Homo sapiens: one gene and its partners. The protein of the gene in region 2 purifies or fractionates together with the protein of the main gene of each other region. This does not show direct contact. Each region holds a gene or a part of one and is shown on either strand. Other genes may lie near its edges. The genes, in order: NPAS1, NHSL2 and PSMA8.

What was found.
Region 1: the proteins of NHSL2 (region 2) and NPAS1 purify together in Homo sapiens (affinity purification with mass spectrometry; one large-scale study listed by BioGRID and IntAct). This does not show direct contact.
Region 3: the proteins of NHSL2 (region 2) and PSMA8 purify together in Homo sapiens (affinity purification with mass spectrometry; one large-scale study listed by BioGRID and IntAct). This does not show direct contact.

Annotation. Positions count from the first base shown.
Region 1 is NC_000019.10:47,018,245-47,021,992, forward strand, and holds the start of NPAS1 (neuronal PAS domain-containing protein 1), read left to right. Parts: upstream 1-1,592; 5' UTR 1,593-1,753; intron 1,754-2,761; 5' UTR 2,762-2,803; coding exon 2,804-2,925; intron 2,926-3,367; coding exon 3,368-3,603; intron 3,604-3,748. UniProt on the Homo sapiens protein: May control regulatory pathways relevant to schizophrenia and to psychotic illness. May play a role in late central nervous system development by modulating EPO expression in response to cellular oxygen level.
Region 2 is NC_000023.11:72,137,796-72,141,443, forward strand, and holds part of NHSL2 (NHS-like protein 2), read left to right. Parts: intron 1-645; coding exon 646-2,976; coding exon of another isoform or gene 2,977-2,981; exon of another isoform or gene 2,982-3,567; intron 3,568-3,648.
Region 3 is NC_000018.10:26,136,788-26,140,435, forward strand, and holds part of PSMA8 (proteasome subunit alpha-type 8), read left to right. Parts: intron 1-3,257; exon of another isoform or gene 3,258-3,298; coding exon of another isoform or gene 3,299-3,322; intron 3,323-3,648. UniProt on the Homo sapiens protein: Component of the spermatoproteasome, a proteasome specifically found in testis that promotes acetylation-dependent degradation of histones, thereby participating actively to the exchange of histones during spermatogenesis.

The DNA of each region.
Region 1 (3,748 bases), on a different chromosome or scaffold from region 2:
AAATAATTAATTAATTAATTAATGGCACAAGTGTACCTCTCATGGCTGGCATAGCACCTGCCCAGGCTGCACAGCCAGGAAGTGCTGTCAGGAGACAGGAGCCCATGATCTGAGCTTGATTCCTTGCCCTGAAACTCTAGCAAGTCTCTCTGGGGATAAATAAGGATCTGTTGTCTGAGAGGCCACTATCACCAGGCTATATCACTTCCCCATGTCTCGGTTTCCCTAGTTGTAAAATGCATCTAGTAACAGAGCCCATCTCAGAATCTTGCTATAAAATAAAGTATTAGCAAAAAACAAGCACTCCCTTAAGTGTTAACTATGAGGATCATGAATGAGTTTGTGTGTTGTGAGCAAATGCACACGGGTGTTTGTGTGTGCCTCAGTTTCCCCATCTGCCCAACCAAAGGCCAGCGCGTGCTCCCTGCAAGCCCCTGACTGTATGCCTCTTCTAAGACTCCCTGCTCCATTTTCTTTTTCTTTTCTTTTCTTTCGAAATGGACTCTCCTTCTCTGACCCGGGCTGGAGCGCAGTGGCGGGATCTCGGCTCACTGCAACCTCCGCCTCCCAGGTTCAAGGGATTTTCCTGCCTCAGCCTCCCGAGTAGCTGGGATTACAGGCGCCCACCACCACACCCGGCTAATTTTTGTATTTTTAGTAGAGACAGGGTTTCACTATGTTGGCCAGGCTGGCCTTGAACTCCTGACCTCGGGTGATCCAACCGCCCTGGCCTCCCAAGGTGCTGGGATTATAGGTGTAAGCCACCGCGCCCGGCCCCAGCTCCATTTTCTTTCCCCATGTTAAGGTCATGTAGAGGCTTTTAAGTGCCTGGAGACCCCCATGCCAGGGAGGACCCTGAGAACGGGAAGTGGGGGCTGCATGGAGAGAAGGAGCTAGGGGAACTGTAGGACCTCCTATCAGACTGGGGAAGGCCTGGCTTGGACGCCTGGGTTCCCGTCCTCTGTGCGAGGTACTACAACCCCTGAGTTCCCATTTATGATCTAATGGGGAGCTTGGATGTAAGGGTTCCCGTCCCTGCGGCGGGGGATGGAGATAAGACGCCAGGATCCTGGTCTCTGGAGCTCCTTAGAGAGCTGGATCCTGGTCCCTGACGAGGGAGGTGTATGTCCCCCTTTTAAGGCGGGTTGGGTTTGGATGCGAAGTCCCAGCCCTGTGGGGGGAGAGTGTGCTGACACTCAGGAGTTCTCTCCCGGAAAGGGAGGGTCTCGAATTCTGGATTTGTGTCCCTGGAGGAAGCACTGACGTGAGTCTTCACTCGTACATGGGGCTCGGCTGCAGGGTACCTGTCTTGTCCCGAGGGGCTGCTGGGGCACTAACTGCCTCCTGAAGGGGTGTAGACAGTGCCCGGACTCCGCTGTTCCCCTTTTGGAGTGGGGTAGCTCCGATCCGAGGTGCTACATTCTGACCCCCGACGTTACCGTGGGGCAAGGGAACTCGGACCCCAGGGTAGCTTGGCCCCCTACCAGGGAAAGGCGAGCAGGGCGGGTCCGGGGGCGGAGACGCGGCGGGCGGGGCTCCGGCAGACCCCGCCCCCGCCCGCAGCGCTGGTCGCGCGTCTCCAAGTCTGCGAGGCCGAGGTGGGCGCCGAGAGCTGGGCGCCACAGCCCGCGCGTCCCGCTGCGCCCCGCGCGCCCCGGGGTCTATGGAGCTGCCCCTCCGCGCCGCCCGGCCGGCCCCACGCCGCGCCCGGAGCCTGCTCTGCGGCCAAGTAATCGGACTGGCGGTCCTGCGGGTAGGGGAAGCTTGCGGGCTGGCAGGAGGGGGACTTCTGGGTCCCAGAGGAATGGGGGGCTGGAACTCCAGTGTCCTGGGGGATAGGGGGTGGGACGAGGGTATCCCGAGCCTGGGGGAAGGGGCGCACGGATGTTTGAGTCCTGGAGAAATCTGGGGTTGGGAGACCTGGACACGGGGGTCTGGGGCATCTGGACACCTGGCTGGGAGGTTTGGGGGCGGCCTGGTTCCTGGGGTTAGGGGGTGTTCTGAACGCCTGGTCCTGGAGGAATGAAGACCTAACTGAAAACGTTAGGGGATCAGGAGACCAGGACACCTGGGCCCCGAGTGTCGGGTCAATCCTGGGGGCGTCCTGGGGCAGAGGCTGCGGCGGCTGCGTCCGGGGCTGGGGCTCGCGCGCCGGGGTCTTCAGGGAGGAAGTTGTGGTCGTGGGGATGTGGCGGTCCGAACACGTGGCGCCATCCCGAGAGGCTGGGGGGATCCCTGGGCAGGACACAGGATGGGGGTCCCTGCCCTCTGCCCCCTGCCTCCTTAGCCCAGCCGGGAAAACAGGGTGCAGATCCGGGGAGTCAGACACCGGGGATGGGCTTGGGGGGCGGGTCCTCGGGGCAGAGGGCTCCGGGGGCTGGGGCGTGCGTGCCTGGCCCGGGAGGCGCCCGCCCCCCGCCCGGCTTGGGCATGCTTGGCACGCAGCGCGCGGGCCGGTTCGATCCGTATGCGCGCCGCGTGCGCCCATTGGTATGCGGGAGCCGGCCCGGCGCGGGCGTGAGGCGGGCGCGCTGGCGGGCGGCGCGGGGGAGGCGGCGGCGGGGCACGTCCTCACCCGGAGCGCCAGCCCCGGGCCGGCTAGGGTGGGAGCTGAGGCCTCCAGGTAGGGGAAACTGAGGCATCATCCAGGCCCCCCCCCCCCCAGCTCCTTGCTGGGACCCTGAGCCCTGCACGGATCTCAGTTTCCCTAGAAGGTCTCCCGAGGGCACTAAGCGTTGCCCCTGGCCCCCTCCCGCTGCAGGAGACTCGGGGCTCGGAGCCCGCCTGAGCGAGCCCCCCGGAGATGGCGGCCCCCTATCCCGGCAGTGGCGGCGGAAGCGAGGTCAAATGCGTGGGAGGCCGCGGCGCCAGCGTCCCCTGGGACTTTCTACCCGGGCTGATGGTCAAGGCGCCGTCCGGACCGTGGTGAGCAAAGCCCCGCCCCCCTGGCCGCGGGCCCCCCCCCGGGTCCAATTCACACCCGATGTTCTGTCCCCGTGCCAAGGGGCAGTTCACACCCAGCTCCCTGACCCGCCCCTTAGGGCTAGAAGGTCTTACCTTGAGTTAACTACCGTCCTGAGCCCGGTCCCCTGCGTTCTGCTTCTAGTCCCGGTCCTCAGAATTCACGCCCAACATCTTTAATCTCTCGCCCTTCCTCCTCCTTCCCACCAGAATTGACACTCGAGGTTCTGTCCCTGGGTCGGAGTGTAAAATCCACACTCCGGTCTGCTCCCACCTCCAGAGATGTGGAATCCACTCCCAACGTCCCGTCCCGTTCCCAAGGCCCCGGGAGGCGGGGCTCGCCCCCAGTTCCCAAGCCCCTGAGCCCCGGGGCCCCGCCGACACCTCCTCCGCGCCGCCCGCCCAGCCTGCAGGCGCAGCGCAAGGAGAAGTCCCGGAACGCGGCGCGCTCGCGGCGCGGGAAGGAGAACCTGGAGTTCTTCGAGCTGGCCAAGCTTCTCCCGCTGCCCGGCGCCATCTCCAGCCAGCTGGACAAGGCTTCCATCGTGCGCCTCAGCGTCACCTACCTCCGCCTGCGCCGGTTCGCCGCGCTGGGGGCGCCGCCCTGGGGGCTGAGAGCCGCGGGGCCGCCAGCTGGCCTCGGTGAGTGCTCATGCGCGGGGCGAGGGTCCCGGGGCCCTCCAGGCGGAGTCACTGCAGCCCAGATCCGGGCTGCGGGCCTGCCCTCGCCCAGATGCTTGTCTCTGGAGTCAGCCAGGACCTTTGCGTGTCCCTATCAGGTGGCTTC
Region 2 (3,648 bases):
AATGGTGGCTATTGTTACAAATTCTCATAGCAGTAGTAGTTATAATAATAATAATAATGACATGACAGTATTAATTGTTTGTGTGTATGAGAAAACCTTTGGGGATTTGGAACATCCAAACGGTTTCCTCACATCCGTAGATTATCCTCAGCCTCTTATGTTGCAAAGCCTAAAAGTGATGGGTGCGAACAATGCAACCAGACTCTTAGCTTTGCATCTTGGGCATGCTCCAGAGTCATTGCTGGAGCCAAACGTCACACCATGCCGTCCTTAGTTCGGAAGCCTCTACTCTCATCTCTAGATGGATGAATGCTGAGGTCTGTGATGGTTTCATGAGCCTGGGGTGAAAGTATGGGGAAAATGCAAGGTAATCCCACGTGACACTTCAGCTCTAAGAGGAATAATCAAAGCTGGAAAGTATTTGGCAGCCATCTGGACCATTCAAGGGCACCGTATGTCTCACTGTGGGGTGATGGGCAAGGACCCAATTTCCCCAGCATCTTCATCCATGGAAGGGAAGAACCAAGGAATTCTGACCAAGCTGTTGGCAAATGCTTCTTGGCAAAAAGTTGGTGCTCCTGTCTCAAAACAGCTGGTGGGAGATCCCTTGCTGTAGCACTCATGTCCTGTGTTTATTTCCTCCAGGTCACAGCAACAGCCCAGCAGGCAGTGTGGCCCACTCTACCACCTCCGACATCAGGCCCAGTCACTCAGTTCCAGAAGGGGTTCATGGAAGAGTTGCAGTTGGTCAGGATGCTCGGTTCCCAAGTCTCACCTCGCCAGTACTGAGAACTCCTTCCAGTGAGCCGGACGAACCTCACCAGGCACGGAGTGGCCCAAACCCTCCTGGCATGGAGAGCATGGGAATGGTGTACAGTGTCCCCAGTTCTTGCAATGGACCTACAGAATCAACCTTCTCCACTTCCTGGAAGGGAGATGCTTTTACCTACATGACTCCAAGTGCCACCAGCCAGAGCAATCAAGTCAATGAAAATGGGAAAAATCCTTCCTGTGGGAATTCTTGGGTCTCTCTAAACAAAGTCCCACCTCTGGTTCCTAAGGAGGCTGCTACCCTCCTTGTCGCTCGTGATAACCCAGCAGGATGCAGTGGGTCAGCTGGCTACCCTGAGCGCCTTATTCAGCAAAGGCACATGCCCGAAAGACCCTCCAAGATTGGCCTTCTGACCAGTGGGACCTCGAGGCTGGAGACAGGCCCCGGTGGGGCCAGCAGATTCCGGGAGCGGTCACTGTCTGTGCCCACAGACTCAGGCACCACAGATGTGGACTATGATGAGGAGCAGAAGGCCAATGAGGCCTGTGCCCTGCCTTTTGCCAGTACGAGCTCTGAGGGCAGTAACAGTGCTGACAACATTGCCTCCCTTAGTGCCCAGCAAGAGGCCCAGCACAGAAGGCAGAGGTCCAAGAGTATCTCACTTAGGAAGGCCAAAAAGAAGCCTTCCCCACCCACACGCAGTGTCTCACTGGTCAAAGATGAGCCAGGCCTCTTGCCTGAAGGTGGGTCAGCACTACCCAAGGACCAGAGGCCCAAGAGCCTTTGCCTCTCCTTGGAACATCAAGGACATCACTCGTCCCACCCAGATGCTCAGGGTCACCCAGCTATTCCAAACCACAAAGATCCAGAAAGTACACAATTCTCCCACCACTGGTATCTTACTGACTGGAAGTCTGGTGACACCTACCAATCCCTGTCCAGCTCCAGCACTGCCACTGGCACCACAGTCATTGAGTGCACCCAAGTTCAGGGCAGCTCAGAGTCTCTTGCCTCACCTTCCACCTCCAGAGCCACTACACCTTCCCAACTCTCCATTGAAGTGGAGGCCAGGGAGATATCATCCCCGGGAAGGCCCCCTGGACTGATGTCACCCTCCAGTGGCTACTCCAGCCAGTCGGAAACACCAACACCCACTGTTTCCATGTCCCTGACCCTGGGCCACTTACCCCCTCCAAGCAGCAGTGTCCGGGTACGTCCAGTGGTACCTGAGAGGAAGTCATCACTACCCCCGACGTCACCAATGGAGAAATTTCCCAAGTCACGGCTATCATTTGACCTACCACTGACCTCTTCACCCAACCTGGATCTGTCTGGGATGAGTATCTCCATCCGAAGCAAAACTAAGGTGAGTCGGCACCACTCAGAGACAAATTTTGGCGTCAAGCTGGCCCAGAAAACTAATCCCAACCAGCCAATCATGCCTATGGTTACTCAGTCCGACCTACGTTCTGTTCGCCTGAGGTCGGTCAGCAAGTCTGAGCCGGAAGATGATATTGAGAGCCCTGAGTATGCCGAGGAACCCAGAGCAGAAGAAGTCTTCACCTTGCCAGAGAGAAAGACAAAACCTCCCGTAGCTGAGAAGCCTCCGGTGGCCCGGAGGCCTCCAAGCTTGGTCCACAAGCCACCATCTGTTCCTGAGGAGTATGCACTAACTTCACCAACCTTGGCTATGCCCCCCAGGAGCTCAATTCAACATGCGAGACCACTCCCTCAAGACAGCTACACGGTAGTGCGGAAACCAAAGCCCTCCAGCTTCCCAGATGGCAGAAGCCCAGGGGAGTCAACAGCACCCTCATCTCTTGTTTTCACGCCTTTTGCCAGTTCCTCTGATGCTTTCTTCTCAGGAACACAGCAGCCTCCCCAGGGAAGTGTAGAGGACGAGGGCCCCAAGGTGAGGGTTCTGCCTGAAAGAATTAGCCTCCAGAGCCAGGAAGAAGCTGAGAAAAAGAAAGGCAAGATTCCACCTCCCGTACCAAAAAAACCCAGCGTGCTGTACCTGCCTCTCACTTCTCCCACAGCTCAAATGGAGGCCTATGTGGCAGAACCAAGGCTGCCTCTCAGCCCCATCATCACCCTGGAGGAAGACACCAAGTGTCCCGCCACCGGCGATGACCTGCAATCACTTGGTCAAAGGGTGACTTCAACTCCTCAGGCTGACAGTGAAAGGGAGGCAAGCCCTCTGGGTTAGTAAACTGTCTGCTGGCTTTTTCCTTCAGTCACAGGAGAGATGAGGGTGAGAATGGAGTGCCAGAGATGGAAGCAGATGCCCCAGAATAATTATCCTGATCCCAAGTCAGTAGCGGGCACCCTTTGAGGGTTTGAGTTACTCTAAATAGGAACCACGGGCTGGCCTTACTGCCCTTGAGATCAAGACTAGCCCGAGGCAGATCTCCAAGGCCCAGTTTAGGCCACTCTCCCCTCTAAATCTCTAGTGCTGAGATAATGAAATCAAACTAGGTTCTAGCACCCTAGGACTTCAGCATCCCACATCCCTAGCCAAGCATGCATCCTGTCTTGGGAACTACTCCACCTCACTGTACAGTACTTTTCATTGGCTGCAGTGAATTTAGTTCCCTACATGGGACCCAGTACCCCACCAGACTGAGTTCAAGTGCCATGGCAGGCTCGGAGCCATCTGAAACAACGGAATATGTTGCCACCAGCAGCCTCTTTTTGTGCCTTCCGGAGGAAAGGGAGCTCACTTTCTTGGGTGGTTTGAGTTCTTTGGCTCTTCCTGGAACCATAAACATAATACATAATGCTTCTCATCCTTTCTTTTTCTGTCTCTTTTTGTTTTAATTGTGGTAAAGTACCCATAACATTTACCATCTTGACCATTTTTAAGTGTGCAGTTC
Region 3 (3,648 bases), on a different chromosome or scaffold from region 2:
TACTGCACAATATACAGTAGAGGGGCTAGGAAGGCAGTAACTAACATTTAAGAAATACTTTAACCAGGCATTTTGTGTATATTATCTAACATTAGGGACAGTGTTTAATCCCCTTTTATTATGTGTGAAACTGTGATTCAGAAGCATTTATAGCTTGCTGAAAGTACCCAGCTGGAGAGTGATGGAACCCATATTTATAATTATTTTTTTCTAGTTCTAAAGCCCCTGCTCCTTGCATTGTAGCATGAAATTTGTTCAATAAATGTTTGTATATTAATTAGCTTCCATTATCATGAATGTAGAAATCAGATATGTATCACTTAAGGCAATTAACTTCACTAAGCTTCAGTTTCTGTAATAGTAAAAGAGGCATCAAAATAGCACTTGTGGCTGGGCGTGGTGGCTGATGCCTGTAATGCTAGCACTTTGGGAGGCTGAGGTGAGTGGATCACTGGAGGTCAGGAGTTTGAGACCAGCCTGGCCAACATGGTGATGCCCCATCTCTACTAAAAATACAAAAAATTAGCTGAGCATGGTGGTGTGTGCCTGTATTCCCAGCTACTTGGGAGACTGAGGCAGGAGAATTGCTTGAACCGAGGAAGCAGAGGTTGCATGAGCTGAGATTGCACCAGTGTACTCCAGCCTGAGTGACAGAGTGAGAATCTGTCTCAAAAAAAAATTGCACTTGCTTCAGAGAGTTGATGTGAAAGTTGAATGAGGTAATAATGCATGTGAAGCATCTTAAACAGAATCTAGTTCACAGAAAGTACTTAACAAATTGTAGTTATTATTTACTATTCTTTGTTTTCTCTTTTTTTTAAATTTTGTCTGTGGTGCTTCTCACACATTCATTTATTATTTCAAGACATTTTTGTTGAATACTTACATATGCTAAACATGATGCTAGGTCACATACAAGATAGATAGCATCACATACAAAATAGATTCGATCCCTGTCCTTAGAGATCCTACTATCTATCAGGAAAGTTAGATAATTACATAAATAGTCCTAAGAAAACCCGAATGAGTATTAGAGTATGAGGCACTATAGGAACCCCAGGTGTTGGGGAGGTCCCTCTGAAGAAATAATACTTAAGTGGACATCTGAAAGATGAGGGGCTGTCAAGTGAAGAAGTGGAAGGGGAAAGAGTGAAGAGTATTTTTGACAAAGGAAATAGCTTGTGGGAAGGCAAGTAGAAAAGGACAGCTATGTTCTGTCAACTGAAAGGCATTCAGAATTGTTGAAGCAATGGAAAAATAGAAATAGATGAAGCTAGAAACTGGTGCCAGATCATGGAATGCCATTAAACCATGTAAGTGAGGATATACTGAATGAGAGACCTTGAAGTGTTTTGATGTGGCTACTGTCAGTCTCCAGATTATTGCTCTTCTGTCATTCTATTAACAGACTACATTTGTCCAACAACAGAGATACTCACATGACCTAAGTAGAATCATTCATAATTTCTATCTTCCTGGCCACAGTGATGAGCATGTCACTCAAATCTAGCCAATGATAAGTTCACCCTTAGCAACTCTTCTGACTAGAGACAGAGGTAGCTTTTATTCTCTGGGAGAACTGTTGGGATGTGGGTCCAAGGTTCCTGGTGGCCATGTTTTTACTGTACAGAGAAAGCCTTTCCACATTAGGAAAGTGAAAAGCCAATATGCAAAGAGTACATATTAAAGTCCCTAGATCCTTTTGTCTCATGTCTAGCTCTGTGCTGTGTTGATTTGCTTAGTGACAGATGGTCCCTTTATAAGCTTTAAGTAAAGGAATGCCACATTCAGACTTTATTTTCTTCTTCTTCTTTTTTGGTCTTCATTTTATTTTCCAAATATTTCTCAGGCTACCTATGGTCAGTGAATTGGATGAAATCAAGACTAGAAACAGGGAGACCAGTTAGTATTCTGTGGAAATAGTCTAGATGAAAGATGATAACTAGCTTTTACTAGACTTGGGGGGAAAGTAAAAATAAGGTGGATTCCAGAAAAACATTAAGCAGTATACTTGTTACAATTTGATGGTTATATGGATGGTGTTGACAGAGGTATAGAAGAAGGAGGAATAAAAGTTGGTGTCCCTGTTTCTGGATGTGCCTGCTAAGTAAATGGTACTGCCATTTACTTAGAGAATGTAAGCACTAAGTTTTGGGGGAAGATAACTGTTTTGGACTTGCTGAGGTTGAGATGCTTATGGAAACTGTAGCAGACAGACTTTAAAATGGCCTCCAGTGATCCCCACCTTGTGGTGGTCATGCCCTTGTATAACCTTCCTCCCTTGGATGTGGGCTGAACTTAGTGACTTGCTTTTAAGGAATGGAATAGGTGAAAATGACGAATGTCACATCAGGGATTAGGTTGCAAAGAAATGGTGACTTCATTTTATTCATCCTTACTCGCTGTTTTGCTTGCTTACTCTGGTGAAACCCAGCTGCCGTGTTGAGTTGCCCTCTGCAGGGCCCAATGAGGCAAGGAACTGAGGGAAACATTTGTTCAAAATCTAGTAGGGAACTGAGATCCTTAGTCCAACAACCCAGGGGAACTGAATCTTGCCAACAACAATGCGAGTGAGCTTGGAAATGGATCCTTCCCCAGTTGAGCCTAGAGATGCATGCAGCACTGGTAGACAACTTGATTGCAGCCTTATGAGAGACCCTGAGCCAGAGGAATTAGCTAAACTGTGTCCCGATTCCTGAACAGAGACTGTGAGGCAGCTGAAAAGTACATGTTTGAAATTTAAGAGATTGATTTTGGCTGGAAATAATAATTTTGAAGTGCATTGTTTCTCTCCCCTGTTAAAAACCTATATTGAAGGTCAAGTAAATGCATACTCTTGAGTACCCTTCTGTGTTCAATAAGACTAAATATAGACTATAGACTAAGCCGAGGATAGTCTACAACTGAACCTTGAGGAACCTTAATGACCTTTGTAATTACCTTGACTAAACTCTGAGAGAAGAGGGATAGAAACCAGGTTGTTGTGGGCTGAGGGATGATGACAATATTTGACTTGAAGGGCTTGAAAGAAAAAAGGTGGGATTAAAGTGGAATGGTCTTAAAATTAAGATAAAAGAGACTAACATAGGTTTCTGTCTGTTCGTTGAACTTCTCAATTTGTTCGCATAGTGTTTTCCTGATCTCGCTTGTTTATCTCTGTACTCTTGTAGCTTACTGAGCTTTTAAAAGATTGTTACTTTTTAATTCTTTGTCAAGAAATTCATAGATCTCCATACTTTATTTTCTTCCTTTGGTAGTATCATGTTTCTCTGATTGTTCACGATTCTTGTGGCCTGGCATGGATGTCTGCACATTTGAAAAAGTAAGTACCTCTTCAGATTAGCTTCAGCAGGAAAAGTTCTTCACCAGTTAGCCCATCCAGAGATTTGGGGTGGGCCTGCCACTAGAGTCCTTTGGCAGGCTGGCGTGATGCCTAGGTCAGCAGGCAGGCTGGCTTGGCACCACAGGTGCCAGCCTTGTACCAGGGCTCACTGGGGTGGGCCTGGAACCTGAGTCCACAGGAGCAGACCTGGAGCTTGGATCCATGGGGTCCATGGAAAAGTCAGATACCCACGTTACTCTCCTTACCACACATGGATGGTATCTCTCTCTGCACTGTGTTGCTGGGCCTTGAAGGACAGGTGATGT